Linked DNA regions of Homo sapiens. The protein of the gene in region 3 purifies or fractionates together with the protein of the main gene of each other region. This does not show direct contact. Each region holds a gene or a part of one and is shown on either strand. Other genes may lie near its edges. The genes, in order: SNRNP70, SUPT16H, RBM25, SART1, CHD4, SRRM1 and FAM76B.

Region 1 (4,106 bases), on a different chromosome or scaffold from region 3:
GACCCGGCTTCGTGATGTCAGCGGCGAGGTGGCAGGAACACCGAGGGCAGGGCTCCAGGCCAGGGCTCCACTGGAGCCCTTCAGCCTTCCCTCCCTGCCCCCGTGCTTTCTATGGGGCTGCTACTGTGCTGGCCCTGGAGAGTCTTTTTGGCTGCTAGTTTTGGGGTGCTCTGCCCCCTTTCTGTCTTCCTTACTGTGGTTGAGGCCTCCCGAGGGGGCTGGCTGTGGTGTCCAGCAGCTCTCCAGAGGTGGTCAGGAGCTCCCTAAAGTGCATGGAATTGGGGCTTGGGGTGTGGGAGGGACCAAGGGGTAGGCTGCTAGCAGCTGAAGGTGTCGTAGGTTTTTACTAAAGAACCTTCCACTGTCTAGAGACTTGAGAGAGGGAAAGAGAGAGAGAGGCCTAGACGAACACAATCACATGTTTTCTTTGCTGTTCCTCCCGGGATGGGCCTGTTTTGGGGTTTGGGACTCTGAACCCGAGCGGGGTTCCTTCGCTTGACTTTGATCCTGGTCCTTAAATGCCTTTCCCCACTCCCCTCCCGTGGGTTCAGGGGCCAAGCGGCCCCTCCTCAGAGCACGGGCAGCACCGTCTCCTGGACCCCTGTGTGCCAGCCTCTGCAGACGCAGCTGGTGGGAGGGAGCATGGATTTGGAGGTGGAGAAGTCACTCCTGGTCCTCGGAGGGGGTGGGCTGTGTGCCTAGTTCAGTGTGACTCGGGGATTGGTGAGGGCGGACAGGTTTCTGAGGCCTCCCTAGCCTTCTTTGTAAATTCACACGAGATAGTCCAGGGCTTTCCAGCGCCCAGCTTGGATGATAATCCTCGTCTCCCCCACTCTAAGGCCTCCTTGAGATTTCTTTGGGGTCTACCACGTCCTCTGCCTGTCTCCAGGTGGTACAGGAGATGTGGTTCCTCTCCCTCTCCTGGCTCCCTAGAACCCCCCACTTCCCCTCCCTGTAGCTTTAGCTGACCCCGTGGTGGTGGGTGTGGGGTCTGTGCGCGTGCTCAGGTAAGCTTGGGGGCTCCAGGTAAGCGGTCCCGTGTCCCCCCCCCGGGAAGCCCGCCTCCTCGCCAGGCCCCCAGGAGTTGCCGAGCCCCCCCCATCCCGCTCGGTTTGGACACCCGCAAGGCCGGCATCGGTAAATGGCACCTTTTTCTCTTCCTCTGGTTGTTATTTGGGGGGGAGCGGGCTGGGGCGGGGCAGGGTATTACGGTTGGTTGAGGACAGCCCCCTAGGCCAGGGCTGGGTGGGGGAACGGGGACTTTTTGGCCTTCATGACAGCCCCACGTTGATCACAGGCCAGGGCCTCAGGCTTGCCTTCTGCTACGCGCTGCCCGAGAGCAGCAGTGAGCCTCTCCCCCGTCTCCCCTCTACGACTCCCCTTTCCTGGCAGGCTCAGGCTGGGGTGCGCTCCCAGCACGTGTTGAGCCGGGGGTGTGGAGGGCGAGATGGGGCAGGGCTGGGGGGAGGCAGAGTCAGTCGTCTCAGGTAAGGCAGGGATTTTCAGTAGCACCGCACGGCTCCCCATGCTTCCTCCACTGCCCCTCTCCCCTGCTGCAGGGGCCCCGCCAGGCCCCCTGGGAGTGTATAACCCGCCTCTCTGCTCCCTGCCATTTCCTGAAGATTTCTCCCACCCCCTTCTGGTTCATTTTCTGTTCTGATGTCTGTTCCCCCCACACTCACCCCCCTCCAAAAAAAACAAAAACAGAAAAAACCGGTGTGGTCTGGGGTGCGGAGCGTCCCAGCTGGGCCTCCTGCCCCGGCTTGGTGTCTCAGGGTGCATGCTTGGGGTTGTGGAGGAGCCCCCTCCCCCACAGCAGAGTCCAGCGTGGAGTTAACCTTCAGTTTCTTTGCAGCGATTTTGGCCGCCCTGGCGGGAGGGGGCTGTTCCATCATGTGGGAGAGGAAGGGCCGGGGAGCCTAGGGGGTGGCGGGTGAGGGTGGACGTCTCCCCCGACCAGGAGTGGTTGGGGCGCTGAGAGGAAGCAGACGCTGAGATGGAGCAGGCCCTTCACCGGTTTGGGAGAGGGTTGGTCTGGCTGTCAGTTGCCTGGCTGTCTGTTGGGCGTGTGCGTGTGCGTGATGATGGGGACACGGGGCGGGGATTCTGTAGAGCTGGGCCTGTCCTGACTAGAGGACCCTCTGGGGACTCCTCTCCCCTCCCCCTCCCCACATCTGTTACAGCCGCTTACAAACACGCAGATGGCAAGAAGATTGATGGCAGGAGGGTCCTTGTGGACGTGGAGAGGGGCCGAACCGTGAAGGGCTGGAGGCCCCGGCGGCTAGGTGAGCACATCCTGCCTTCGACGGGCTCTCGGGGGCCCTGGGCCTGGTGGCCTTGTTCTCCCTTCTCTGCTGCTTTCTGCTTCTCTGTCTCCTGCCGGCCCACCTCTCCCATCGCGTCCTCATCTCCGGCTTCTCTCTCTTGTGGCCATCACATTTCTGACAGCTGCCTGCCTCCTCGTTCTGGGTTACTGTGAGGAGCAGGGGCACCAGCCTGGAGAGGCCTGAGCCCACATGCTGGCGTCCGCCCTTGCTAGCTGGGGGTCCCCTTTTCCTGCCTCATTGTACTCCTCTTAGTGGAAATAACCCCGAGTTCACTGAGCTCAGTGTACTGGGCGCCCAGCTTGGCAGTGACGCATGCTGGGGTTGTAAATGTCACTCGCTCATCTGCTTCTGCTGCTTGCTGTTGCTCTTGTTCACTCTTTTACTGATTCAGCAAGTACCTATTGGATCACCAGCTGTGTGCCGGGCTTCTAGTTGAGCAACACAGAGGCAGCCTCTGCCCTCTGAGCCTCCTGCATTCGGTCTCCTCATTGTCATTTGCTGTCTCAGGCAAGGTCAGTTTGGCTGCAAGTATCAGAAATAAACTTGAGCTTCCTGAAACATAAAGGGCCCTGTTGATGTAGAATCATGGGCATCCTTTGGAGTTCGGAGGTATGTGATGTCCGTGGACCTGAGAACCTGGTAGCTGACGCTGTTAAGAGCTGGGGCAACCAGGCCAGGCGTGGTGGCTCGCCTGTAATCCCAGCACTTTGGGAGGCCGAGGCGGGTGGATCATGAGGTCAGGAGTTCGAGACCAGCCTGGCCAAGATGTTGAAACCGCATCTCTACTAAAAATACAAAAATTAACTGGGCGTGGTGGCGGGTGCCTGTAATCCCATCTACTCGGGAGGCTGAGGCAGAGAATTGCTTAAACCTGGGAGGCAGAGGTTGCAGTGAGCCAAGATAGAGTCACTGCATTCCATCCAGCCTGGGTGCCAGAGCAAGACTCTGTCTCAAAAAAAAAAACAAAAAACAAAAAAACTGGGGCGACCCACCTGTGATGTGTGACAGCCCACAGCTTGCTTCTGCCTCGTTTGCCTCCATGCAGCTAGGTCGGTCCCATGCCTCTTTGCACTGGCCCAGCGCAGCAGGCCACAGGCCCCAGCTTTACACTCAGTCCTGGATGAGTCTCTTGTTTCGGGGTGGGCACATTTGATTGACTCAGTGTTGGGCCTGGGGTCCTGTTGCTCAGGCATGCTTATTGAGGACTGAATCCTGCAAAGCTGAGTGACAGTTGTCAGAGAAGATGATGGTCCCTGGGCAGACACCCAGGCAGTAGTAGCCACTTGGGGCTCCTGTCCTGCCTCCCAGCCCTGTGTCCTGGCTCTGGACTCGCCTGTGCTAGGGAGACCACGCTCTCAGCTGCTGAGCCTCGGAGCTTACCAGGCATGTTCTTACCTTACTCTGGTCTCTCTGGGGTGGAGTGGGTTCTTATAGCTCTGCTGTTTCCTGTTGGGGCGGGAAAATGCTAGAATCTCAGTCTTTCCAGAATCTCAGAATCTTCTAGTTCAATTGCCATTCAAACTTTTTGTTGGTGTTAGCCAATAACATCTTGACTCGGTGCACCCGCAGAAATACTGTAACCTAAAGTTTGAGGAAACAGTTTTTTCTATGTAGTAAGTATATAGTTGTATTCTGCTGTTTTGTTTCTTAAGATGTTGGTTGCAACCCATCAGATTGATGATGGGACTCATTTCTGGGTCATGACCTGAATATAGGAAAGGCTAGTCTAGCTGCCCTGTGCCTGTGACATGGCAGGTGCCTGGTCCGCTGCCTGCTTCT
Region 2 (4,279 bases), about 52 Mb from region 3:
AGACCTGGATTAGCCAGGCATGGTAGTAGGCACCTGTAATCCCAGCTACTCGGGAGGCTGAGGCAGGAGAATCTCTTGAACCTGGGAGGTTGCAGTAAGCCGAGATTGCATCACTGCACTCCAGCCTGGGCGACAGTGAGACTGTCTCAAAGAAAGAAAAAGAAAAAAAAAAAAAAAAAAAAGATCAACAATGAACAGATTTAACCAAAGAGGTCTAAACCTTACTGAATAGGAATTTCAGAAACAAAAGACATCACTAAGGAAATGCAGGGACCAAAATGATCAAATAATGCACCATCCTAGGACTGAAGAATATGAGCTTGAGACTAAAAGGATTTCCCCAAAAGAGACATATCAAAGCACATTGCTGTGCAATTTCAAAACAGAAGGGATGATTCTAAATTTCAGAGAGAACAGGCTATGTATGTATACTGGAAATAGAATCATATCAGCCTTCTCAAAAGTAACACTGAAGTCTTTGACGCCAAATAATGGCTTCAAAATTCTGAGCAAAAAATGATTTTCAACACAGAATTTTATACCTACTGCATTAACAAAGCCAATAGAGTTGACTTTGGTTAACTATATTATTAACCAAAAGTGAGGGCAAACTAGCACTTTAAGACATGCAAGGGCTGAAGACATTTATATTCTATGCATCCTTTTTTTTTTTTTTGCATGGGGTTACAGTGGAGCTAGTGGTGAGCTTTTTATTTATTCTTTTTTTGAGACACAGTCTCACTCTGTTGCCCAGGTTGGAGTGCAATGGCACGATCTCAGCTCACTGTGGCCTCTGCCTCCTGGGTTCAAGCGATTCTCGTGCCTCAGCCTCCTAAGTAGCTGGCATTACAGGAATGTGGCACCATGCCTGGTTAATTTCTGTATTTTTAGTAGAGATGGGGTTTCGCCATGTCGGCCAGGGTAGTCTTGAGCTCCTGGCCTTAAGTGATCTGCCCACCTCGGCCTCCCAAAATGCTGATATTACAGGCGTGAATGAACCACTGCGCCTGGCCCATCTTTTCTTACGAAGTTCTTAGAGAAAATGTGCTAAAGAAAAAACAAAGCAGAGGCTCTTGGATATAGGGGACCCAATATTGCAAAGTCCCGAGGTTCAACAGGCCTAAAGAGTAACCTATACAGATGGAGCAGGATAATGTGGGGGGTGGAAGTGGGGAGTGAGGTTGCTTTTAAGCAACAGAATAAAATTCTGAGTGTGAGAAATTTAGAATAAAAGACTGGTAACAGGATAATGTGGGGGGTGGAAGTGGGGAGTGAGGTTGCTCTTAAGAAACAGAAGAAAATTCTATGAGTGTGAGAAATTTAGAATAAAAGACTGGTAACATTATAATAGATTTATTGGAAAAAATTAAGGCTAGGGAGACTTTTTTTAAAGGAGAAAAACTGAGGAAATCATTAATGCCAGGAAAAATAAAAAACTGTAGAAAAAAAGGAAAGTTAATCATACTTTATTACTTCACCCAGCAGTGAAAACATCTATATGAACATAAACAATGTAAATAGTAACTACTTATTTTACTAAAAATTGTGGGGAAAAGTTATGAAGAAGGATGGATGTGTGATAAAGCAAGTACAACAAAATGTTAACTGTGTGGGGTGGTGGGTATAAAGGGTTTACTTAAAATTCTTTCAACTTTTCTGTCTTTAAAATTTTTCATATCAATGTGTCAGGAGAAAAATGTTAAGGTATCAGGAGGTAGGGAAGTTGGAATGAGTGTGATGACACAAAGAAGTTAAATTCAGATTTACCATAAGTTAATAACCGTTAAAAATTCACAAATCAAGAAATAGCAGTATATATAGATATTATTTAGAAATATGAAAGAAACAAAAAACTCAAAGTGGTTGCCTCTGGGATAGGTGACTTTTTGTTTTAAGGCTTTTATTAGAACTATGACTTTTAAAAAACTATATCTATTACTGATTAAAATAATTTTGAAAGTGAGAGTTAAATAAAATATAAAACAGGTGGCAAAGAATCTGCAAAAATTGTGAAGGTGGTATCTGGATGATAAAAGTTGGAGAAATAGTGCAGCAGCAGAACAACTATCTTCCTTTGAACCAAACTGATACTGCCTTAAAAAAAGAAAGTATTTTTGCAGTCTGGTTGTAGCTAAATACCCATATAATCAGTTACCACTGTTCACTGAGTGACTTCTATATGCCAGGCACTGTAGTTGTTAATAGGGATAAAAAGTAAATATAAAAAGTAGAGATCTAGGGCTGGGTGTGATGGCTCATATCTGTAATCCCAGCACTTTGGGAGGCTGGGGTGGGTGGATTGCTTGAGGCCAGGAGTTAGAGACCAGCCTGGCCAATATGGTGAAACCCCATCTCTACGAAAAATACAACAATTAGCCGAGCATGGTGGCACACACCTGTAATCTCAACTACTCAGGAGGCTGAGACACGAGAATTGCTTGATCCCGGGAGGCAGAGGTTGCAGTGAGCTGAGAATGCTTCACTGCATTCCAGCCTGGGTGGCACAGTCAGACTGTCTCAAAAAAAGAAAAAAAAAAAAAAAGTAGAGAACTAGACTATAAAAGCTGAGTAAGCAATATTTAAAAAAAAATCTCAATCCATCTGGGCATTTATTTCCATCTAACCCTCCTTACTCAGCATTATTAAAAAGTTTCTTGGCCAGGTGCAGTGACTTACACCTGCAATCTCAGCACTTTGGGATGCCGAGGTGGGCGGATCGCTTGAGCCCATGAGTTTGAGACCAGCCTGGGACAACACGGTGGAACCCTGTCTCCACAAAAAATACAATAAAATAAATAACAATAATAATAATAATAAAAATTGGTCAAGTGTTGTGGCATGCACCTGTGGTCCTAGCTACTCAGGAGGCTGAGGTGGGAAGATCACCTGAGGCTGGTTTGGTTGAGGCTGCAGTGAGCAGTGATTGTGCCATTGCAATCCAGCCTCAGCCACAGAGTGAAACTCAAAAAACAAACAAACAAACAAACAAACAAACAAAAAAACCTTTCTCTATCCCACTCCAGAGATAAAGGAGCTATTAAGAGCTGAGTGTGAGTGGAAGTAATCCACTGCCTGACTGAAATAACAGGAAATGCCTATACAGCTGGCTCTCCTTATCTGTGGATTCAACTGTGTACTGAAAATTAAAATGGCCAAACATTTTTCTATGTCATTACCCCCTAAAAAATAAGTATAACTATTATTTACATGCACTTACACTATATTCGGTATTATAAGTAATCTAGAAATAAAAAATAATGGGAGGATATACATAGGCTATGCAAATATGCCATTTTGTTATCAGAGACTTGAGCATCCTTTGATTTAGGTATCTAGGTATGTCCTGGAAGCAATCCCTGACAGATACTGATGGAAGACTGAATTTTTTTTTTTTTTTTAAAGAAATGGGCTCTCTCTCACTATGTTGCCCAGGCTGGTCTTGAACTCCTGGACTCAAGCAATCCTTCCACCTCAGCCTCTGGAGTAGCTGGGATTATACAGGCATAAGCTACTATGTATTTTTTAAAATCCTTCCTGAGCCACAGAACATAGCTGTTGAATCTTAATAGAACAACCCAGAACAAGAAACTAAGCCACCATAAAAATCTGCAAAGAGCCAGAAAGCTCCACTCAAGAGAAGCACTGACACTTTAATTCATTAGTTTCTTCAAAGGCATAAAATTTCTTTGGGGTCAGTCTTCCACTACCCCAATCCTGACAGTTGGTGTATGCTCACAAGAATGTGAGTATTCCTTCTGAAAACAAATATTTTTGACATTTTATGGAATTCTTCAAGAAAAAAGGCAGATGAAGTCAAGGTCCACTCATATCAGAATGTCCCAACAGGTAGGTCTCAAATGATATACAGATATGCCTGGATATTGTACCACTCAGCCCTCAAGGCAGCTGGAACCCTGGGATGGTAGATAACCTCTTTTGTTTCTCCCAATGACCAGCACTAATCATATTACTTGGTTAAAAATAATCGTAATCATGAAAAGGCTGGCAATCCCTGAAGAAGGATCTAGTAGGCATAAGAGGACAAAGAAACATGCAGCCCATTTCCAGGAACCACCACTACCACCTGCGATATTCTAATAATACAGAGAAGGTGCTGCAAATCCTTTCTGCTCTTAGCAGCTCTCACTTAAAACATAAGAGGCAAGACTGGATCTAGACTCAAACCTCCAGGAGTCATAAAACAATAGTACGTTCTAAGGTCTCCTGTTGATTTTTGACTGACTCCATTTTCCCATCTCTAAAATGACACGATTTACTT
Region 3 (4,279 bases):
GCTGATGCCTGTAATCTCAACACTTTGGGAGGCTGAGGCAGGAGGATCACTTAAGCCTAGGAATTTAAGACTACCCTGGGCAACGTGGTGAGACCCCATCTATATTTTAAGACAAAAAAAACCAAAAACTTTTTTTAAATTAAAAGAAATAAAAATAGTGAATTTCTAACTTACCATGGCAACATCATCTAAAATGCTCTGGGGTGAACTATGAGCCATAACCTAAAAGAGAAAAATAATTGTCACATTAAAAATAAATAAAAAATTAACAATACAGTCAAGAAATTTTAAGGTATGAATCCTCAAATTCATACAGGAACTTCTTGCGGCTAAGGAACCATTCTATAAATGTTTTAATTTTCAGAATATCATTCTTCAACGAAAGAGGCACCAAAACCTGGAATATTAATCTCCATAGTGGTCTGTAGTCTAATTTTAAGTCAAATCTCACACAAGTTTTAATGCCACAATAATTACAAGTTAGAGAAGACAGAGTAAATTTACTGTTCATAATATCAAAAGAGCACTACTGGCAAAAAAATACCATAGCTATACCTTTATAGAAATATGGTGTTTCTACTATGTTAACTGTTTTATTAAAGTTAAGACTATGTTTTCAGGAGACAATGGGAAGATATACCTTAGTGGTTAAGAGCATGGGTTTCAGAGGCTAGACTCAGTATAAAACATAGCCAAGACACAATCTCTCCTTAAACTTCAATTTCTTCATGTATAAAATGGGTATAACATTCATGACAGACAGATTCTAAGTGTTAGGTTAAAAGAAGTTTTTCTTTTTTCTTTTTTTTTATTTTGAGACAGAGTCTCACTCTTGTCACACAGGCTTGGAGTGCAATGGCGCAATCACAGCTCACTTCAACCTCCGCCTCCCGGGTTCAAGTGATTCTCCTGCCTCAGCCTCCCGAGTAGCTGGGATTACAGGTGCCTGCCACCCAGCGCACCCAATTTTTGACTTTTTAGTAGAGGCGGGGTTTTACCATATTGGCCGGGCTGGTCTCAAACTCGTGACCACAAGTGTTCTGCCCCATTGGCCTCCCAAAGTGCGGGAATTACAAGGCGTGGGCCACTGTCTTGTTAACATTTTATAGAACTTTATCTTCGGCTGGTGTGATGGCTCACGCCTTGTAATCCCCGCACTTTGGGAGGCCAACTTGGGCAGATCACTTGAGGTCAGGAGTTCAAGACCAGCCTGGCCAACATGGTGAAACCCCATCTCCACTAAAAATACAAAAAATTAGCCTGGTGTAAACCAAACACCACATGTTCTCACTCATAAGTGGTAGCTGAACAATGAGAACACATGGACACAGGGAGGGGAACATCACACAGCTGGGCCTGTCGGCGGGTGGGGAGCTAGGGGAGGGAGAGCATTAGGAGAAATACCTAATGTAGATGACAGGTTGATGGGTGTAGCAAACCACCATGGCACATGTACTCCTATGTAACAAACCTGCACGTTATGCATATGTATCCTAGAATTTAAAGTATAATTTAAAACAAAAAAAGAAAAAAAAAATTAGCAGGGTGTGGTGGCATATGCCTATAGTTCCGGCTTCTCAGGATACTAAGGCAGGAAGATCAGTCTAGGCTGGGCGTTCAAAGCTGCAGTGAGCCATGATTGCGCCACTGCACTCCAGCCTGTAGGACAAAGCAAAACTCCGACTCAAAAGAAAAAACAAAAACAAAAAACAAAAAACAAAACAAAACAAAACAAACAAAACTAACACAATACCTGCCGAGAACACAGCCTGTCAGTCAATAAACACTGATCGTTACTACGATATGAAAGGAACTATTTTGATCCTATCCAAAGGATGGGTGACTGACAAAGGAGTTGGGAAAAGATATTGGCTACGTCCAAAAAATCTCAACATAATTATTCCAACCAAGACAAGAAGAAGATGGCACAGCATTCTCAGGGGCAGAAAGACAGCACACAATTGGCAGTAACCAGCAATTCCATCCTCCTCGACCACTGAAATAAAAACATGTGGTGTGAGGAGTCTGAAGTTGGATGGAAAGGTTCATTAAAGCAGACATAAATCTGCATCCACTGCAGTGAATAAAAAAAAACACACCAAAAATAAAAATAACTTTAAAAAAGCAGATATAAATCACTTAACTGAACCTAAACCATCATGGAACTTGACTCTGTAAAATTTCTGCTCTTTTAAGAAGTGTCTAATATTTTAATATATAAAATAAATGCTGGCATGGAAGAGAATAGAAGACTAACCTTAGAACAAACAAAATCAACTAATGTAGCTTCTTCTTCACCTATATATTCTATGATTTTCTTATTAATCCATGGTCTAATTCGACGTTCCATCAGTATCTGCAAAACAAACCACGGTTACTGAATTAAAGAATTGTAACTTGCTATAACAGTTATTAAAGCTTCATGATTTTTCCTGAGACTAAAATATAATGTTATTTCACAAGTTGAACTAAGACAGATATGTATCAAGATACAATCATCTGCTTTTAGTAAGTCTTCAAGTAGCACAAAAAAAATTTCCATTATTACTAATTTCTTGACCATGGCATTGAGTTGGTGTCAAGATGATCATCCCTACTTATTTGTCATTAATAGAATCAAATGAGGTTTTTTTTTCTTCAAATGAATTTGTATGGCATATTCCAACTGTTCCCAATAATATGATGAAATATAATTTCCTACTCACAGAATCCACAATAGACCAATCCAGGGGATAAGCGAAGAGCTCAGGTTTGGCTGTAGGGATTTTCTCAATGAGACTCTTAATGTGTTTACGCTTTTCTTCAGTGTTTACAGTGCCTTTGGTTGCATTTTTATCATCTTCACCATAATCCAAGGGAACCAGTTTCCTTTTTCGGGGTACGTCATCACTGTCTTCATCCTCAAATTTGTTAAAGACACTATCTACAGGTAGTTTCTTTCTCTTCACAGAATTAGGCTGACCAGGACTATTGGAAGCACCTACAGTAAAAACACTCTCTTAGCAAGATGACTTAATTTCCAAATGTTTCATTTTATAACCCACCATCCCTCAAAAGCAATGCAAAATATACTTCCACAAATCTTAGAGAAAGATCCCAACTGTAAAAAATAACTCACTACTCACAAGTGCTAGAAAATTAAACTTTTCACTTCTTCTCAGAACTCGAGGCAGCTGCAGATATAGGAGCACTAGTAAAACTATGAAAACAATCGTGAGCTAGAAAGGCATTTTTTAGTAATCTTCTATCTACCTAACCAAGCACAAATATAAATTTTTTTCTTTAAAGCACAATACAGGTATTTGCAGGGGTGAAGGGAAGAAAATAAAGAAGGAAGGAAATGCTAACGTACCCAGTTTAAGACTTAGTCCTATTTTTGGCCTATGCTCCTCAGGTTGCTGTTGATCTGGTGAGTTTTCATGAGGAATAATAATACCACAGGGAGACTCATCCCCAGGAGTGTTAGGTGTTGCATTGCCACTGGCAGAGGAAACAGATGGAGCAGAGCTGATGGGCCTCAGAGTAGGTTTCAGACAAGGCTTTTGCTCTGGCTCCTCTTCCTCTTCCATGGGTTCTTCTCGTTTTTCTTCTTTTTCTTGCTTTTCTTCTTCCTCCTCTTCTGATTCTGGCTCTTGCTTTATTTGTGGCTGCCTGCGCCTCTCAGCCTCTTGTTCCATCTAAAACCCAAACAATAATCTGATTAACTACAACTCTACACCATTCAACTTGATTTTTGTTTTACATTACCTCTTGTAAAATATCTTTATGAAAAGAGAAAAGGCCAGGTATGGTGGCTCATGCCTGTAATCCCAGCACTTTGGGAGGCCGCGGTGGGCAGATCATCTGAGGTCAGGAGTTTGAGACCAGCTTGGCCAACATGGTGAAACGCTGTCTTTACTGAAAATACAAAAATTAGCCAGGTGTGGTGGTGCACGCCTGTAATCCCAGCTACTCAGGAGGCTGAGGCAGGAGAATCGCTTGAACCTGGGAGGTGGAGGTTGCAGTGAGCCTTGCAGAATCGCACTACAGCCTGGGCAACAAAGCAAGACTCCATCTCAAAAAAAAAGAAAAAGAAAAAGAAAAAAAAAAGGACATGGGCAGTGGCTCAATCCTGGGTAACACAGGAAAACCCCATCTCTACAAAAAAGCATAAAGTATTCAGTCAGGCATTCTGCTCATGCCTGTAAGTGTCCCAGATACTCACGAGGTAGAGGCCTGAGGACCACTTGCCCAGGAGGCAGAGGGTGCAGTGAACAGAGATTCCGCTACTGCACTCCAG
Region 4 (4,279 bases), on a different chromosome or scaffold from region 3:
CGTTGGCCCCCTACCTCTCCATCTCAGCTCACGCCACCCCTCACTCTCTGCTCTGCTCCAGCCTCCCTGGCCCTCAGGCACTCTAAGGTCACTTCTCCTGAGACACCTGCTGGTTGGTCTACTGCCTAAATGCCAGCCTGTCCACCTGCTGCCACCCCTAACCCCCCGCAAGGCTGGCTCCTCTGTGTGACTCAAGTCTCAGATGAACTAGTACCTTGGAAAGGTCTTCCCTGCACTCTCCCATCTAAGATCCCAACCCCCGGCACGTTATCTTGGTTTACTGAGTGCCCAGCTCCCACCACCATCAGAAATTACCGTTCCTGCATTAACAGTCACTGCTGCTCCCCACGCTCTCCCCCACACACTCTAGAAAGCCAGCTCCATGAGCCCAGGGCCCCATGGCTATCCTGTTCACCAATGACCTTCTCAGCCCAAGAACAATGCACTACTCACAGCAGGCATTCAACAAACATGCACAGAAGAGAGAGGCAAGGAAAGGATCCCCTACTAAAGCAGGCATCTAAAAATTTTTGCAAAACATGACTTTAAACAGAATAGAGGGCTGGGCACGGTGGCACACACCTGTAATTTTAGCATTTTCGGAGGCAGAGGCAGGCAGATCATGAGGTCAGGAGTTGGAGACCAGCCTGGCCAACATAGTGAAACCCCGTCTCTACTAAAAATATAAAAATTAGCCGGGTCTGGTGGCGTGCGCCTGTAATCCCAGCTACTCAGGAGGCTGAGGAATAAGAATCACTTGAGCCTGGGAGGCGGAGGTTGCAGTGAGCTGAGGCTGCGCCACTGCATTCCAGCCTGGGCGAAAGAGCGAAACTCTGTCTCAAAAAAAAAAAAAAAAAACAAACCCAGAAAACAAAAAACAAATGGAAAAGAGGCTTCAGACAGGAATGTGGCTGTCGCCTATGACACAGGTGCTCGTGAGGACAGGTGACTGCTGACGCAGTCACCCTGCCCATGCCCAGCCTCACCTTCTCGCCACTGTCTCGCAGCTGCTGTAGCTGCTGTAACTGTCGCAGCCGGCGTCCCTTCTCCAGCTGCTTCTGCAGCTCCAGCTCCGCCTCGTCCTCCTCCAGCACCTGCGGGGACCCCGGCGGTGGAGCTCCACCTTCCTCTGGGGGAAACACAGGGGATGCCTGCTCAGACCATCTCCTCCAACCCGCGGCTCCTGTCCCTGCCCCTCCCACCCCCTGGCCGGGCCCTCACCCTCATCACTGATGTCCATGTTCTCCACTCGGGTGTCGTCCGACGGCAGGGGCTGAGGCACAGGCTCCTTCTCCTCCTCCACTTCGGACACTCGGCGGCGACCCCGTCCCCGCAGTCTGAGGGAAGGAGGCCTCTCTGGTGAGCACCGGTCCCCAGGCCACCCCAGCCCAGCCATCTCGCCCCACCACCGTGTCCAAGCCCACCTGGAACCAAAGTCCCCATCCTGAGTCTGGTCCCCGAGAGGCAGCAAGTCATCTGCCCGCACTACTACCTCCTTCTCCTTCTTGCGGATTTTCTTCACCCTCCGCTTGGTCTTTTTAAAGGTCACCTTAAGGGAAGAGGGGCGAGACATGGAGCGGGGGCCACAGAAAGGCAGGTCGCCACAAGCCCTCGAGGGTGAACACTTCTTTGGTGTTCCTCTGTGCTAGCCAGCGTCCTGAGCGCTTCCCACACATGAGCAACATGTGGGGTGGTTACTATCTCAATTCCACTGGTGAGCTAGGGAAACTGGGGCACAGGGAGGTTAAGTACCTTCCCCAAGGTTGCCCAGCTCCTAGGTGGGAGAGCTGGGCAGTCTGGCTCCAGAGTCCTGCTCTTACCCACTGAGGAAGACGCCTACCGCGCCAGCTGTCTACCTCACGTTCACACAGTCACCCTGTGGACAGAATCCACGCACACCTCTCCAGTCACCCCTCACCCACGCTGTCACTCATCCTCACAGCAACCTCAGGAGGCGGCTCCTGTCACTGCCATTCCAGATGGGGTGCCCCAGGCTCACAGTTAAATGGTTTATCCAAGGCACGAGCTGGCAGCATGGCAGAGCCGAAACAGACTGGGGCCCATCTGGCTCAGCAGCCCTGACCCATCCACACCTGGTGCCTCCCCCGGTTGCCATTTAGTGCTCACCCGCGAGGCCAAGCGCTTTGTGAACACAAATACTCGCCCTGTCTTCTCAGTGCCTGCGGGCAGGGCAGGAGCCCCAGAGGGAGGGAGAATCTTGACCCCGAGTATAAGGCACGGGAGGGCTCACCATCTCCTCAGGCGTGAGGTATTCGGAGGCCAGCCGGGGCCCCACTGTGCTCAGGGACTGAGCCTGCAGCCGCAGCTTGGCCCGGATCTCCTCCAGCTCCCGCTCCCGCAGGCCATCAGCCGTGCCGCCCTGCTCCAAGCGGAAGGAATGTGGCCGCTCCCCTTCAAGCTCTTCGTCATACTTGGACAGGATAGAGCGAGGTTTTTGCTGCAAGGCAAGAGGTACAGGTTGGGACCCAGGCTGGCTCCTGAAAAGCCACTGAGCCACCACCTCCTCAGAGCCCCCATTCCCGACATTCTCCACCTCAGCCCCCGCCACCCAGCCTGCCCAGGCCGTGCCTGCGCCAGGTCGTCCACGCTCTCGTCCTCGGCATAGGGCAGGTAGTCAGGCTTCTTCTTCCGCAGCTCCACATTTTTCTCTGCCCGCTCCTTATCCACCAGGTTCACGTTCACCAGCACGTCCTCCTCCTCCTGCAGCACGCCTGGGGGCAGCACAGAGCAGTGGCCATTCACACTTGTCCGCAACTCAGCAGAGGCTGTGCCCCCACCCAGGGCACCCAGCTCGCATTACCTTTGTCCTTGAGGGTAAGAATCATTGTCTCCCCTTCTCGGAAGGAATCAATGGCATGCTCCACGGTGAGGCCCTGCAGGTCCCGGGCACTGTACAGGTCCTAAGGGAAGAATCGGCGAGTCAGGAACCTCCCTCCACGCACCCAACCTCGGGATTCCGGTAGCAAGGCCACCAGTGTCCCCTGTACCACCCCTGCTGCAGCCTCACCTGCCGCCTCTGCCCGAACTCCTCCTCCACCAGAGTGCTGACACCAAACTCTTGGTCCATCTCCTCCAGTAACTTGGCCTACGGGACAGGGAGGGGTGACCTAGGACTTCAGGCCACTCAGCATCACCAGAAAACACTCAGGGCTCTACCAAGCGGAGTGCAAAAAGGGCAGGCCTTGCAGGAAAGCTGCTGAGAATCCAAAGTAGATGCTACCGACCACGGCCCTTCCCTTCTCCAAGCCCCGTCTCACCTCTCTGGGGTTGGCCCCCGCCTCAGTGCCGTCAGGCCACCAGAAGCACTAGGCGACCACCCCATGCTGCCCAGGTGCTCACCCTCTTCTCTGCCAGGTCCTTCTCCTTCTGCAGCTGCCGGCTCCTCTCGATCCAGGCTGCAGTGTCGTCCAGCCAGGGGTCATCCTCTCCTAGGGTCTTTATCTTCCTGAAGAGGGGAAAAAGTGATGCTCAAGGAGCCCAGCTCCTGCTCCCCACCCCACTCAAGAGGCAGCCAAGGATGGTGGCCTCCCCAGCCCTTCCCTTGCCTGCCCTGGCCAGGACCCCTCACCCCAGCTTTTGGTTCAGCAGGCGCTTCTCCTTGGCAGCCGCCAGCTTCTCCCGCAGCTCCTCTCGCTGTCGCAAGGCCATAGGGTTGATGACATCAGCTGTCACGGGCTCCTCCTTGGTGCCCGCCTCTGGAAGGGGGGCCCAGACGTGAGGCTATGCCCGCCCATGGCTGGTGGGGAGAGGAGGGAGCCACTCACCCTGCCCCCTTCCAGCTCAGGGGGCCAGAAGGGGTCAGGACAGGAAGGAACAATCCTTCACCTCCCTGCTCCCACTTCGTCCCCACACTCCTGGCCAACCCATGCAGCACAACAGGACCCTCTGTGGCTTCCAAAGCCCCTCAAATCGTGCTTTAAAGAAAAACAAGAAACCCACCCCCGCACAGCGCAGTCTGCAGCAAGTGTGCACATCTTCCAGTCCATCTAACAACTCACAGCCAGAGTGAGTATGCGACGGCCACAGCTCCAACTCAGAGAGCAGGCGGAGCCCCAGATCCCCATTATACCAGCAAGGAGGGACCTCATGCCTTCCGGCAAATATGCATGTGTAAGACCACTAAACAGTGCTGAACCTGCCCTCTAACCCCACCTTCTTCAAAGACCCCTTCAGATGGCCTCTTTCCCCCAAACCCTATCCTCAGCCCCATACTCACCCTTCTTGATGGCATTAACCTCCAAGGGTTTCAGCCCCAACT
Region 5 (4,279 bases), on a different chromosome or scaffold from region 3:
TCTCACTCCAATGCCTAGGCTGGAGTGCAATGGCACAATCTAGGCTCATTGCAGCCTCCTAAGTAGCTGGAACTACAGGTGCACGCCACCAGAACTGGCTAATTTTTGTATTTTTTGTAGACATGGGGTTTTGCCATGTTGCCCGAGCTAGTCTTGAACTCCTGGACTCAAGCAATCAGCTCTTTTAAATGCTGAGATTAGCCACTGTGTCTGCCTCTCTGAGAACTTTCTTTTCTTGTCTTTTTTGAGGTGAGTCTCGCTCTGTCGCCAGACTGGAGTGCAGTGGTGCGATCTCGGCTCACTGCAACCTCCGCCTCCCGGGTTCAAGCGATTCTGGAGAACTTTCTTATGCCAATCAGCAATCTCTCTCCTGATATGCAGAATGGCATTCATTTGATTACACATGTGCTCCTACTTGAAACTGAAAGCTCCTTGAAAACAGATACCATGCTTTGTCTTTTTATCCCTGGGCACATCATTGCTTAGTACATAATACCTGAAGGCTTATTAGTGTACCATTTCTTCCCCGATTATACTCAGCGTACGAGACAACAGACACGTCTTTTTTTTTTTTTGAGACAGAGTCTCACTCTGTTGCACAGGCTGGAGTGCCGTAGCACGATCTCAGCTCACTGAAATCTCTACCTCCCGACTTCAAGCGATTCTCCTGCATCAGCCTCCCAAAGTGCTGGGATTACAGGCGTGAGCCACCGCACCTGGCCCACACAGGCACTTTTTAGCCCAGAAAAAAGAACCAGGCCAGGCATGGTGGCTCATGCCTATAATCCCAGCAATCTGGGTGGCCAAGGCAGGTGGATCACTTCGAGGTCAGGAGTTTGAGACCAGCCTAGCCAACATGGTGAAACCCCATCTCTACTAAAAATCCAAAAAAAACAGCTGGGTGTGGTGGCAGGCGCCTGTAATCTCAGCTACTCAGGAGGCTGAGGCGGGAGAATCACTTAAACCCAGGACACAGAGGTTGTAGTGAGCAGAGGCTGCATCACTGCATTCCAGCCTGGGCGACAGAGATTCTGCCTCAAAAAAAAAAAAAAAAAAAAAACAACCAGCAGCCCACTGACTAATAGCTCTACATCTTCAGAGATGCAATTCAATCCCACCTCTATATCTTTCCTGAATACTCCAATCTGCAGTGTTCCCCAAACAAACCCCTCTGCACTAGTGTGTCACTGATTGGACACATAGTCACCTACAGCTCATGTACAGTTAGTTAACTTTCAATTCTGTGTGTCTTCAACCCTAATGTGTAAGTTACTTGGGAGCAAAGCCTTCCATAGAATGAAGAAAGTGAGAACAGTGCGCTGGATGGACAGACTCCCTCTGCTGCAGGACGTTACGCACTTTCAAGTTTGTCACTTAAGCAATATATTCCTCCCCAACCGCTCACCTTAAACCTTCGAGCTAGAAATTTATTCTTGATCTCTAAGAAATTGCCACGGTTCATTTCACCCTTGAAAGGCTCATTGAGGATGGCATAGCGTGGGTCATTCTGGATGTCTTGCCACCGGGCATAGCCATGGCTATTGGAAAAGTGCTCAGGAAAAACAAAACAAGGAAAGTAAGAACCTCAAACTAAAAGACCTTCAGAACCTTTCACCAAAAGCCTCAGTACAGATTCAGGCAAAGGATACTTTATAATGCCGGCTAGCAGCCAGTAGTCATGCCGTCGATGCCAGATCTCATAAGTCTTCTTGGTAACTGTGGCTGCCCGCTCTTCATTCTGCCAAAGGGAGTGCAACTCTGAGGAGGAATTTAGGGAAGGTTGGGGGTGGGGGGAAGCAAACATCTGTGAGAATTGAAAAAGCTACTTATTCTTGTCCCCCACCATCCCCTACCCCTGGATCCATTTCATATAATTTGCTTCTGGCTTTCTCCACAGAACCCACTATCAGTTTGGCATTCCCTCATCAAACAGAGGTAAAGAGGTAAAGTCCCTGTACCGTGGTTTCTGACAAGAACCCCAATTTCACATCAGATCCTTCTAACCCTGGTGGGCCCCTCATTTCCATACCAGTAAAACCACCATCTGCAATGTTAAACATGAAACGTTGTTTAATATTTTTCTTCTGTTTCTCATCATTCAGGTCCTTGGGGGTCTCTCCATTCTGAAGCATCACCTCTTTTTTCTCTTCTTCTTCTTTCTTCTCTTCTACAGAATATGGGGAAGAAAAATGTCAGCTCCAGCCAAAGCCCAGCACCATCGCCCTTACCCAGAACACTGTATGCTACAAGAATCCATCCACCTACACCCCTTCTCCACCTGGGTGTCTCTCAGACCCAGAAAATGGTGCCATTGGCCCACTGACAACTAAATGTGGGGACAGGTACAGTCTTTTATCTTGGGATAAAATGGCTAGATGAGTATGGACAGGGAGGCAGGGCAGATACAGTCCTTGCTTCTGGTTTTAGAGTTCTTCTGAACCACAATCAACTTCTCCAAACACCCACCTTTGTCTTCTACCACAATAGGGGTCAGATCTATTGCTGACTTTTCCTCCACCTTCTCTACATCAGCAGCACCTAGGGGAAGAAATGTTATTGAGACTATACCTAAAGGAAGAACATTCTCCTCTGTTGCACACTATTATCCAATTGGATAGACCCACATCTAAATGTCTGCAATTACAGTAATGTCAGCTGGGCATGGTGGCTCATGCCTGTAATCCCAGCATCTTGGGAGACAGCAGCAGGCAGATCACTTGAGGTCAGGAGTTCAAGACCAGCCTGGCCAACAAGGTGAACCCCAATCTCTATTAAAAATACAAAAATTAGCTGGGTGCGGTGGCTCATGCCTGTAATCCCAGCACTTGGGGAGGCCAAGGTGGGTGGATCACCTGAGGTGAGGAGTTAGAAACCAGCCTGGCCAACATGGTGAAACCCTGTCTCTACTAAAAGTACAAAAATTAGCCAGGCGTGGTGGCTCACACCTGTAATCCCAGCACTATGGGAGGCCGAGATGGGTGGATCTCTTGAGGTCAGGAGTTCATGACCAGCCTGGCCAACATGGTGAAACCCCATCTCTACTAAAATACAAAAATTAGCCGGGCGTGGTGGCGCATGCCTGTAATCCCAGCTACTCAGGAGGCTGAGGCAGGAGAATTGTTTGAACCCAGGAGGTGGAGGTTGCAGTGAGCCAAGATCACACCACTGCACTGCACATCAGCCTGGGCGACGGAGCAAGACTCCATCTCAAAAAAAAAAAAAACAACAACAAAAAAAACAATTAGCCAGGCATGGTGGCTACTCAGCAGACTGAGGCAGGAGAATCACTTGAACCCAGGAGGCGGAGGTTGCAGTGAGCCAAGATCGTGCCACTGCACTCCAGCCTGGGTGACAGAGTAAGACTCCGTCTCAAAAAAAAAAAAAAAAAAAATTTTGGCCAGGCGTGGTGGCTCACGCCTGTAATCCCCGCACTTTGGGAGGCCAAAGCGGGCGGATCACGAGGTCAGGAGGTGGAGACCATCCTAGCTAACACGGTGAAACCCCGTCTCTACTAAAAATACAAAAAATTAGCCGGGCATGGTGGCAGGCGCCTGTAGTCCCAGCTACTCAGGAGGCTGAGGCAGGAGAATGGTGTGAACCCGGGAGGCGGAGTTTGCAGTGAGCCGAGATGGCGCCACTGCACTCAAGCCTGGGCGACAAAGCGAGACTCCGTCTCAAAAAAAAAAAAAAAAAAAAAATTACGTGGGCATGGTTGTGGCACGCCTGCAATCCCAGCTACTCAGAGGCTGAGGCAGGAGAATCGCTTGAACCCAGGAGGCGGGAGTTGCAGTGAGCAGAGATCGTGCCACTGCACTCCTGCCTGGGTGACAGAGTGAGACTCCATCTCGAAAACAACAACAACAACAACAACAACAACAAATAAAGTCATAAGAGATACCTTAAGTTAGGGGAAAACCTGCCACCTAAAATCAAGGGTGCAGGATTCTTCAGTGTGTCGCTTCCTCCTGATATCTCTACAGCCCCAGCAAAAATTCACGAGTGACCATGGTTCACACAGGGATCTGTAGTGCTTAATATGGATACCGGCCAGGCATGGTAGCTCACGCCTGTAATCCCAGCACCTTGAGAGGCCAAGGCAGGTGGATCACCTGAGGTTAGGAGTTGGAGACTGGCCTGACCAATATGGAGAAACCCCCTCTCTACTAAAAAATACAAAATTAGCTGAGCATGGTGGTACATGCCTGTAATCCCAGCTACTCAGGAGGCTGAGGCAGGAGAATCGCTTGAACTCAGGAGGCGGAGGTTGCAGTAAGCCGAG
Region 6 (4,019 bases), on a different chromosome or scaffold from region 3:
AGAGTGGGGATGACTGGTTCTTCCTCATGACACACATACCAAATTTATGCAAAAAGCAGGCTCCTATAATTTAATCCATAATATTTCAATTTCACACTTCTAAGCAATTACTTAAAATTCCTCACAAGTTAGCTTGCACAACTATTCAGTCAACCCAATTAAATATGGACATCTGAGGCCACAGCAGGAGGATCACTGGAGGCTAGGAGTTCAAGATCAGCCTGGTCAACACAGCAAGACCCTGTCTCTACAAAAAGTTAAAAACAAAAAACCAGCCAGGTGTAGCAGCATGTGCCTATAATCCCAGCTACTTGGGAGGCTGAGGCGAAGGGATCACCTGCGTCCAGGAAGGCTGCTGTGAGCTATGATCATCCCACTGCACTCAGCGTGGGTGACAGCATGAGACCCTGTCTCAAAAACAAACAAAAAACAGATGGACACCTAACCACTGATTTTATGCAATACAGAAACCTGCCCAAGATCAGATGTATAACTCACAAATGGGAAAAAAAGTTTAAACACCAATATTTTAATGCCCCAATGACATTTTCTCTGCTTCAAAGTGACCATATACATATTTATAAAAGGGTGTCCAAAATAAGGCAGACACATACTCTTGGCGGTGATGGGCTCGGTGTTGGGCTTTTGGCCTTTTTGACCGGTACAGCTGGTGACCAGTTTGTAGACGGTGACTGAGACTGGACGGGGGATGGAGGTGCTGGGGGCTTTTTAGCTGCTGGCTCAGGAGACCCGGAGACAGATCGGGAGGATGAGACCCTTCTTACAGACTGTGGGCTTGGGGAAGCAGCCCTAGACAAAAAGGAAAAAACATTCAGCATTGAGAACAGCCATCTCTCTTCACATGAGAAAACCACCAACTACACTGTACAACCAGGTTATGAATTTCAAATATACCACTTAGATTGCTGGTTGATTCAACTAACATATATCCAATTTACATTACCTATGTTTCCCAGAGGGTGGCTAAAGCCCCATAATCCTCTATCTATTCTGTTAATGATGCTTCTTATGTAAGATTAGTAATGTCAGTTCCTTACATCACACACAAGAAATGTTCAATGTCTTACTCAAGTTTAGTTTTGGAAGCATACCCCTCAAAAACAAATTAATAACTGCTAAGAACCAAGTAAAAGCCTGTGGCATTTAACTTATACCACAGAAACTATCCCAAAAAATGGAATAAGATCTGTAAATAGTACCTCAAGTTTGACTTAAAAGCTCATATTCATAACTTATTCCTTTTATATGGGGGTGGGGGGAAGCTTCCAAATATAAACAGCTATGTAAGTATTCCTAATGGAAAAGCATAAAATATTTTTACTTTTTTATCTTTTTAGGTTCCGGAGTCCTGGAGACTCTCCTAATGGGCCTAGTACTTGGAGACGGGGACTGCCTTCTTTGGGGTGATGACGACGCTCCTCTTCGAACGGGTGGAGGACTTGAGGAGGTCTGAGGAGCTCGAGGCCGTGGTGAGGGCGAATGCCGTTTGTTTGGTTGTGGTGATCGGGCCTCCCGGGTAGAGCGGCTTGGGGAAGACCCTTTCCTATGCTTGGATGATAATGAAGGTGAACGTCTCTTGGTGACTGGGGAGCTTCTTTGTTTGGGAGGTGGAGAATGGGAGACCCGCCGCTTTGGTGGTGGAGATGGTGATGCTCTTCGTTTAGGAGGGGGAGGAGGTGAAGCCGTTCTTCTCTTTGGAGGTGGAGAAGGAGAGTATCTCCTCTGTATTGGAGGAGAGTATCTTCTAGGAGAAGGTGAGCGCCGACGTGGGGGAGGAGAAGGAGTCCTAGGAAAAAGATACATAATTAAGCTGAAAGGCTCAACAAAATACAGAAACAGGATGAAAAGTAATCAGTAGGTTTGGCTATACTGTAGTTAGCACTAGGCAAAGGGAATATATTTATAAGTGAACATGCTATCTTTATATTCTCACTTAAATATCAATAAAACTTGTTTATCTCAGCTGACTGCAACACAGGACACTGTCTGCAGGACTAAGTACAAAAAAGAAAAAAAGACATTTTGATTAACAAAAATTTGCAATTTTCAGAAGATGTGAATTTGTCAATCTTTTAACATCTATACAAAATTAACGTTTTTTGAAAACAGAATCTTGCACTGTATTAACTGAACATCAGTTATTATATAATAACCAAGTAACTGTATTAGCAAAACTCTATTATGGTCACCTTAGGAAGTCTGCACTTTAAAGAGGTCTCCTATGTGGTATCCTCTCTGAATGAGCATTTGGACACTGTATGAATAATTAAGAGTTCACTGCACAAGCCTTAAAGACACTTCTACCTCCCCTCAAAGAGACTGTTCCATTTTCTGTCTCAAAAGGCCACTTTTCAGGCCAAACTGCCTAATTTCCTCTTGGATATTGCAGACTTTTAGATCAAAGTAAATTCCTGCCCAGAGTTAGCTTTACAATAGGCCATATATTTTGGCAATGTGGTAGGGCACAATTTCATCACTGTATCTGGGTAATTACTTAGTAATTCTCAACTCCCATTTCCTCACCTGAAAAATGCAAACAATACCAACTATCAAGCAAGGTCGCTTTGAAGACTAGTAGTAAAGCATATAAAGCACCTAGCACTTTGCCTGGCACTTAACAGGCATTCAAGAGTGGCAGCCAGGCTGGGCAGAGTGGGTCACACCTGTCATCCCAGCACTCTGGGAGGCTGAGGCGGATCACCTGAGGTCAGGAGTTTGAGACCAGCCTGGCTACCATGGTGAAACCTCATCTCTACAAAAAATACAAAAACTGGCTGGGTGTGGTGGCAGATGCCTGTAATCCCAGCTACTCGGGAGGCTGAGGCAGGAGAATCGCTTGAACCCAGGAGGCGGAGGTTACAGTGAGCTGAGATCGGCCACTGCACTCCAGCCTGGGTGACAGAGTGAGACTGTCTCAAAAAAAAAAAAAAAAAAAAAAAAAAAGAGTGGCAGCATGTCATTACATTGCTTGGCAACATATCCGAGCAATGACATTAAAACATTTTCCCCTAATTTTCACTTTAAAATAGTTGTAAAGAAGAGCTACAAAAATAGGAGATTTGCCACTTCACCATGCTAATATTTTATATAACCATAAGAAAATTAGCAAAACTGTAAAATGAACCTCAGTGATAACTTAGTATTACTAAAATAGCAAACAACCCAGTTTTCCACTACTGAATGTCCCTTTTCTGTTCCAGGACTTAATCAATGTTCCTTTTCTGCTCCAGGACCCTACATCTCTTTAGTTCTTGCCAATCTGTGACTGTTTCTGTCATTGTCTTTCATGACTGACACTTTTGAATACTGGTCAGGTATTCTGTAAAATGACTTTCAATTTGGGTTTGTCTGATTATTTCCTAATAATAAGACTGAGGTTTGGCATAATTGGTAAGCATACTACAGAGGTATCCAGGAAATACACGATGCCAATGTTTTATTGAGGATGTTATCTTTGATTATTTAGGTAAGAGATATCTGCCAGTATCCTCTAAATTTTCTCTTTACAATTACTAGTCAATACCATCTTTTAATGTATTAACATCTTTATGACAATACATGATTCACCTGCTATAAAATCTACCTATTTACCCATTTAAGGTCCATTTAAAGTATACAATTAAATGATTTTAGTATATTCATATAGTTCTGCAGCTATTACCATCCCCATGTCCACCCCACCCTAATCTGTTTTCTATCTCTATAGATTTGTGTATTCTAGACTTTTCATATAGATGGAATCATACGTGTTCTTTTATGACTGGCTGAACAATGCTAGTCTGCTTACTCTAATAAGATATAATCATCAGAAAGATTCAGAGATCCTTTTGTAGTTCATAAGCATGATGATTGGGTTTTCACATGCACACATGAGCTGTGCCTCTCTCCAACCTTGTTAGGAAGTGAGCACCATTACTCATCTGATGTTATCAGGGGCGGGGGGAGTTGGGGAGATGCTCCAGTTAGCATATTTGACAAAGTACCTTCGTCGTGGTGGT
Region 7 (4,279 bases), on a different chromosome or scaffold from region 3:
TTCCCTCTGCATGGTTCTAATAGTGAAATTACATAATAACTTATTTAGTTTGAAGTCATGAGATATTATACTGTTAGGTATGTCATTTATGAAAAATTATCATGTAGCCTTCTTCCTCAAAGCACTGATTTTTTTCTTGTATTTGTCTAATTTAGCCCAAATTTTATAGTAACCTTCTTTCCTTTCTCATTCTGTGTTAGTTGTATTTCTGTGCTTTGTTCTCTATTTTTACCTCAAGTGTTAGGTGGTATTGTGTACATAATCCTGGACATAAATTAAAAAATGAAAACAGTGTAGCTTTTGGCTGAAAAGACCATTCCTTTTTATATTACCCAGTGTGAAATTTCTTTCTTTAAGCATTGAAAGATTATTTTACGCATAAGCTAGTTTAAATGTTTATATTGTTTTTACTATTATTGAAGTACATTTTTAAATGAGGCATTTTCCCAGTTATTAGCCGTTAAGCTTTTTTCGTTGGCATACCAGTTGCCAAACTCTATTTCCAGTCGAGCCATGTTTAGGAAAAAAAGAAAACTGAGAAGTTTTACTGATGGTCAGGTATTAACATTAAAATTATACTATTGTGAAGCAGATAGACTTCATCATTTCACCAAACAAACTTTAGATAGCTTGTACAATTCAGGAAACTGCAGTTAACATCTTCTACTTTTGTAATGAAATGTGAGTTTATTGTGAAAGTTATTTAAAATGGTGTGTGTGTGTATGTGTGCAAATATATACATATATTTTTTCTTTAATCTCTCAGTTAACTGAACTAAAGGCAGACTTTCAGTACCAAGAGTCAAATTTGAGAACAAAAATGAACAGTATGGAAAAAGCCCACAAAGAAACTGTGGAACAACTTCAGGTAACTACCATCATTTACGTAAAATGATAGGCAAGAAGGGCTAAACTTGAGTAATAGCATTCATTGACTTAGATTGTTATTGGTAGCCCTATTTTGTGCATAGTTGGTGCATTTCAGTTTTGATTTTGACTTTATAATCATTTTTAATCTTGATCTCATTAGAAGTTATTGTTTGAAATTACTTGAAAGGGGGATTCAGTACTTTAATCTTGAAAACTTTTGCCTAAACTTCAAATGGAGTTTTTGGAGGAGGGTATCATTGGAGTGTGTTCAATTAATTATTGGGCTTATAGCAAAAAATTAAAAATCAGATTAATGAAACTAAGGTGAAAAGCAGGTCTTCAGTAGCAATCATTCCTCACATTAATATTTCCTTCCAGATAATGGGAAAGGAGATGGGTGTATAAAACCAATTCTTAAGGACCTGGAGTGGCAAAAATGTGTGCAAAGCAAGAGAGTTTACTTAACCTGTGTACAGTGGTTCGCAAAGTGCCAAATAGGGTTCTGCTAAATGCTAACAGGTAGTGATCCACCTGAACCTCAGAGTACTGCAAAGTAGCAGTTTAAGTATACAGAACAACTGAATGGTAAAGTCAAGAGTCACCACAGTAATAATCTGATGTCTGGCATGCAGAGATGGTGAACATCCAACATGGATACAGAATGCTACCATATTAAGCTGCTTCTCTTCTAGGTTTCATACATTTAGAAATCAGACCACACTAAATTAATTACATGTTCTCTTTGATTTATACAGTCTCACATTTGTAAAATTAGTCTTTAGTAACAAAATTTTTAAGGTGAAAGAAGTTTTAAATGTTAATGGAAGATGGCAGCACACAGACGTCAGACTTGGGAGAGTACAGCTTCAGAAGGAAGGAGTTAATACTGTCCTGTTTCATTTTGTTTTTTTTTTTTCACATTGTAACACCAAAGGATATTTGCTATTTCTTTCTTTTGGTTTTGTATTATTCATACTTCTTTGCAAGTAGCTTAAATTAGTAGGATTTAGGAACTTGCTCAAATTCGAGGTACAGATTATCTGGTCTTAATCCCTATCATACTATTACAAAGACTGTTGAAAAAGGAACCTCATGTAGAACCTGAGACATAGTAGGCATTCAAATAATTTGTTGACTAGGTGGTGATTTATGGAAATGCCCATCAGCCCTCTGTTCTGAGAGATTGCCCGTATCATATATCAGATTCTTATATATTAGTCAATGTTTTTATCCACCAGCAAGTATTATTTTTAATTTTATGTTATTCCTGTTTTTCTTACTCAGTTATTAATGCTGAATGATTACCTGGAACAAAATCTTCCACCTGGTGATCTTTGATTTAATGTAATGTAACCAAAGCTCTGAAGTAAATCCAGAATGAGATAACAGAATAACTGCAATAGGTGCTCAGATATGTTTTAACTTAGTGCTCCCCACTGTTCAAAAGAGCAGTTTGTGTGTTGGTTTTTCTTTTTTAAAATCATAGTTGCAAATACATGGGGTCATCTTTGACTTAGCCTGATAGATATCTTAGGCCTACCTCCTCTTGGTAATTGAAGTTTCATGTAGTATAAAAGTAACCAATATTTAAATAGGACATTTTGACATGATTTTACATATGCTGTCTTACTTGTTGCAAAAACTGGGTTATGTGATATGCCCATTTTACAGAGGAAACTGTGATCACACAGTAAGCGGTGACGTAGAAATCTCTGTCTTCTCACTCCAGTTTATCTATACTTTTCCCTGTCCTACACTAGTTCCCACCACTTCAGGTTCCTCAGGTTTTCTATTTCATCCTTCCTATCAGGCCACTTCCCTGATTTTTTTGTGTTATGGCTAGAGACAATCTGTCATAGCTGAGTGCCATCTTTTTACCTCACTTCCTTTAGCAACCAAGTGATACTAGTAGGATTCTTTACTGAGGTGAGGAAACCGGTAATTTTTTTTTTATCTTTATGTAATAAGGAATTGAATCCTGTGACACAAGATGGATCTTGCTCTAATAGCTAGTAAAATATTTTTAACTGCCAAACCTACGACAAAACACTGAACATCACATGAAAAAATTGTTCAAAATGTCACCCCAAAATACCCCAAATATTGAAAATACTAAGAATATCAAGTTAAAACTCTTATTCACTTAATTAGGTAAGTGGTTAAAAGGAAAAGGGACCTAACATTTGAGTGCCTTCTGTGTACCAGGAACTGTGTTAGGCTAAGTGTTTTATATATTTGATAAGTTCCTTCAACTCATTTTGAGTTCGGATGGTGGAGTTTGTGTTACAAATGAGAAAATATGCTCCAGGTTATGTAGCTGGTAAGTAAGCCAGGATTTAAAGCAGGATCTATGTAATTCTTAATCCTGATATTCTTTCCTTTGCACCAACATGTCTAAACTTTAAAACTTAGCTTTCTTAAGAGTCTGTAAAGAATTTCATTGATTTTTTTTTTTTTTTTTGGCTGGCTGCAAAATGAAGTAATTTTAGGATAAAACAATTTAAATGTACATATATTGAAATATGGCATAAAATTCATTTTTAAAGTATTCAAATTAGAATAATTTGGACTTGTACTTAACAATTGTGTTATTTATTTACCATAAAGACTTTTGTCTTATGTAATTTATTAAGAAATATCTTTATTAGTGATATAAATATATTAAAAGCAAATTGGAAATTAGCTACCAAAGCATTAAATGGAAAAATTGCTTTGAAGACCTAATGTTCAAATTATTGTATTTTGTACTTAAAATATGAAAATTATAAACACTTTATTTCTTGATAATTGAGATAAGAACTTGGAGATTCACATTTTAACTATTTTGTATCAGTATAAACATTTTTAGATAAATATAACTTAACAGATCTAGTGGAGATCTTTTTGAGTCAAATTTGCAGACTCAAAATTTGAAATTGATACTGAATTTGAAATTGAAGTTTTTCGTTACCACCTTAGTTATTAATAACCACTGAATAGGAAAGTTCTATTGATCATGCATCTGAACATAAAAAATTATTTGATTTGCACATATAAGATAGTACTGAGAATATTTGCATTTTAGAGGTCATGGGTGTTAATTAGCAAGAGTGATTGGAGAAGAAGGGTGGGGGAATGGAAGAATAAAGTTTGAAAAAGGTTATTTCATGAAACCACTTTAAGATGGCATACAGAGAAGGCAGAGTGTTATCTGCCCGTAAAAAGCTAAAATTAGAATAAAATATGAAGTACTGAGATTAAAAAAGTCTGTCTATATAATAAAAATTCCTGGAACCTGTGAAGGAAAATGGTGTTGAAACATAAGTCAGAGGATATCTTTTTAAAATGTGTTAATTTTAGGGCAGTGCTCTATTTTCATCACTTTCCCCATTTTGGCTCAAACTACAAAAATGCTTGATCATTAATGTAT

Evidence for each region.
Region 1: the proteins of RBM25 (region 3) and SNRNP70 purify together in Homo sapiens (affinity purification with western blotting; 2 studies listed by BioGRID, with this or other methods). This does not show direct contact.
Region 2: the proteins of RBM25 (region 3) and SUPT16H fractionate together in Homo sapiens (co-fractionation; one large-scale study listed by BioGRID). This does not show direct contact.
Region 4: the proteins of RBM25 (region 3) and SART1 purify together in Homo sapiens (affinity purification with mass spectrometry; 2 studies listed by BioGRID, with this or other methods). This does not show direct contact.
Region 5: the proteins of RBM25 (region 3) and CHD4 purify together in Homo sapiens (affinity purification with mass spectrometry; 2 studies listed by BioGRID, with this or other methods). This does not show direct contact.
Region 6: the proteins of RBM25 (region 3) and SRRM1 fractionate together in Homo sapiens (co-fractionation; 3 studies listed by BioGRID, with this or other methods). This does not show direct contact.
Region 7: the proteins of RBM25 (region 3) and FAM76B purify together in Homo sapiens (affinity purification with mass spectrometry, with the first as the bait; one large-scale study listed by BioGRID). This does not show direct contact.

Annotation. Positions count from the first base shown.
Region 1 is NC_000019.10:49,102,451-49,106,556, forward strand, and holds part of SNRNP70 (U1 small nuclear ribonucleoprotein 70 kDa), read left to right. Parts: intron 1-976; exon of another isoform or gene 977-1,137; intron 1,138-2,183; coding exon 2,184-2,285; intron 2,286-4,106. UniProt on the Homo sapiens protein: Component of the spliceosomal U1 snRNP, which is essential for recognition of the pre-mRNA 5' splice-site and the subsequent assembly of the spliceosome. SNRNP70 binds to the loop I region of U1-snRNA.
Region 2 is NC_000014.9:21,376,915-21,381,193, forward strand, and holds part of SUPT16H (FACT complex subunit SPT16), read right to left. Parts: intron 1-4,279. UniProt on the Homo sapiens protein: Component of the FACT complex, a general chromatin factor that acts to reorganize nucleosomes. The FACT complex is involved in multiple processes that require DNA as a template such as mRNA elongation, DNA replication and DNA repair.
Region 3 is NC_000014.9:73,110,229-73,114,507, reverse strand, and holds part of RBM25 (RNA-binding protein 25), read right to left. Parts: intron 3,678-4,279; coding exon 3,353-3,677; intron 3,200-3,352; coding exon of another isoform or gene 3,084-3,199; exon of another isoform or gene 2,981-3,083; coding exon 2,706-2,980; intron 2,357-2,705; coding exon 2,258-2,356; intron 223-2,257; coding exon 175-222; intron 1-174. UniProt on the Homo sapiens protein: RNA-binding protein that acts as a regulator of alternative pre-mRNA splicing. Involved in apoptotic cell death through the regulation of the apoptotic factor BCL2L1 isoform expression.
Region 4 is NC_000011.10:65,964,529-65,968,807, reverse strand, and holds part of SART1 (U4/U6.U5 tri-snRNP-associated protein 1), read right to left. Parts: coding exon 4,238-4,279; intron 3,717-4,237; coding exon 3,590-3,716; intron 3,467-3,589; coding exon 3,361-3,466; intron 3,107-3,360; coding exon 3,029-3,106; intron 2,922-3,028; coding exon 2,822-2,921; intron 2,733-2,821; coding exon 2,590-2,732; intron 2,459-2,589; coding exon 2,252-2,458; intron 1,550-2,251; coding exon 1,425-1,549; intron 1,338-1,424; coding exon 1,222-1,337; intron 1,130-1,221; coding exon 987-1,129; intron 1-986. UniProt on the Homo sapiens protein: Plays a role in mRNA splicing as a component of the U4/U6-U5 tri-snRNP, one of the building blocks of the spliceosome. May also bind to DNA.
Region 5 is NC_000012.12:6,576,380-6,580,658, forward strand, and holds part of CHD4 (chromodomain-helicase-DNA-binding protein 4), read right to left. Parts: intron 2,539-4,279; coding exon 2,467-2,538; intron 2,343-2,466; exon of another isoform or gene 2,174-2,342; intron 2,168-2,173; coding exon 2,030-2,167; intron 1,759-2,029; coding exon 1,650-1,758; intron 1,539-1,649; coding exon 1,406-1,538; intron 1-1,405. UniProt on the Homo sapiens protein: ATP-dependent chromatin-remodeling factor that binds and distorts nucleosomal DNA. Acts as a component of the histone deacetylase NuRD complex which participates in the remodeling of chromatin.
Region 6 is NC_000001.11:24,666,911-24,670,929, reverse strand, and holds part of SRRM1 (serine/arginine repetitive matrix protein 1), read right to left. Parts: coding exon 4,005-4,019; intron 3,948-4,004; exon of another isoform or gene 3,843-3,947; intron 1,808-3,842; coding exon 1,343-1,807; intron 811-1,342; coding exon 615-810; intron 1-614. UniProt on the Homo sapiens protein: Part of pre- and post-splicing multiprotein mRNP complexes. As a component of the minor spliceosome, involved in the splicing of U12-type introns in pre-mRNAs. Involved in numerous pre-mRNA processing events.
Region 7 is NC_000011.10:95,772,511-95,776,789, reverse strand, and holds part of FAM76B (protein FAM76B), read left to right. Parts: intron 1-766; coding exon 767-868; intron 869-4,279. UniProt on the Homo sapiens protein: Negatively regulates the NF-kappa-B-mediated inflammatory pathway by preventing the translocation of HNRNPA2B1 from the nucleus to the cytoplasm.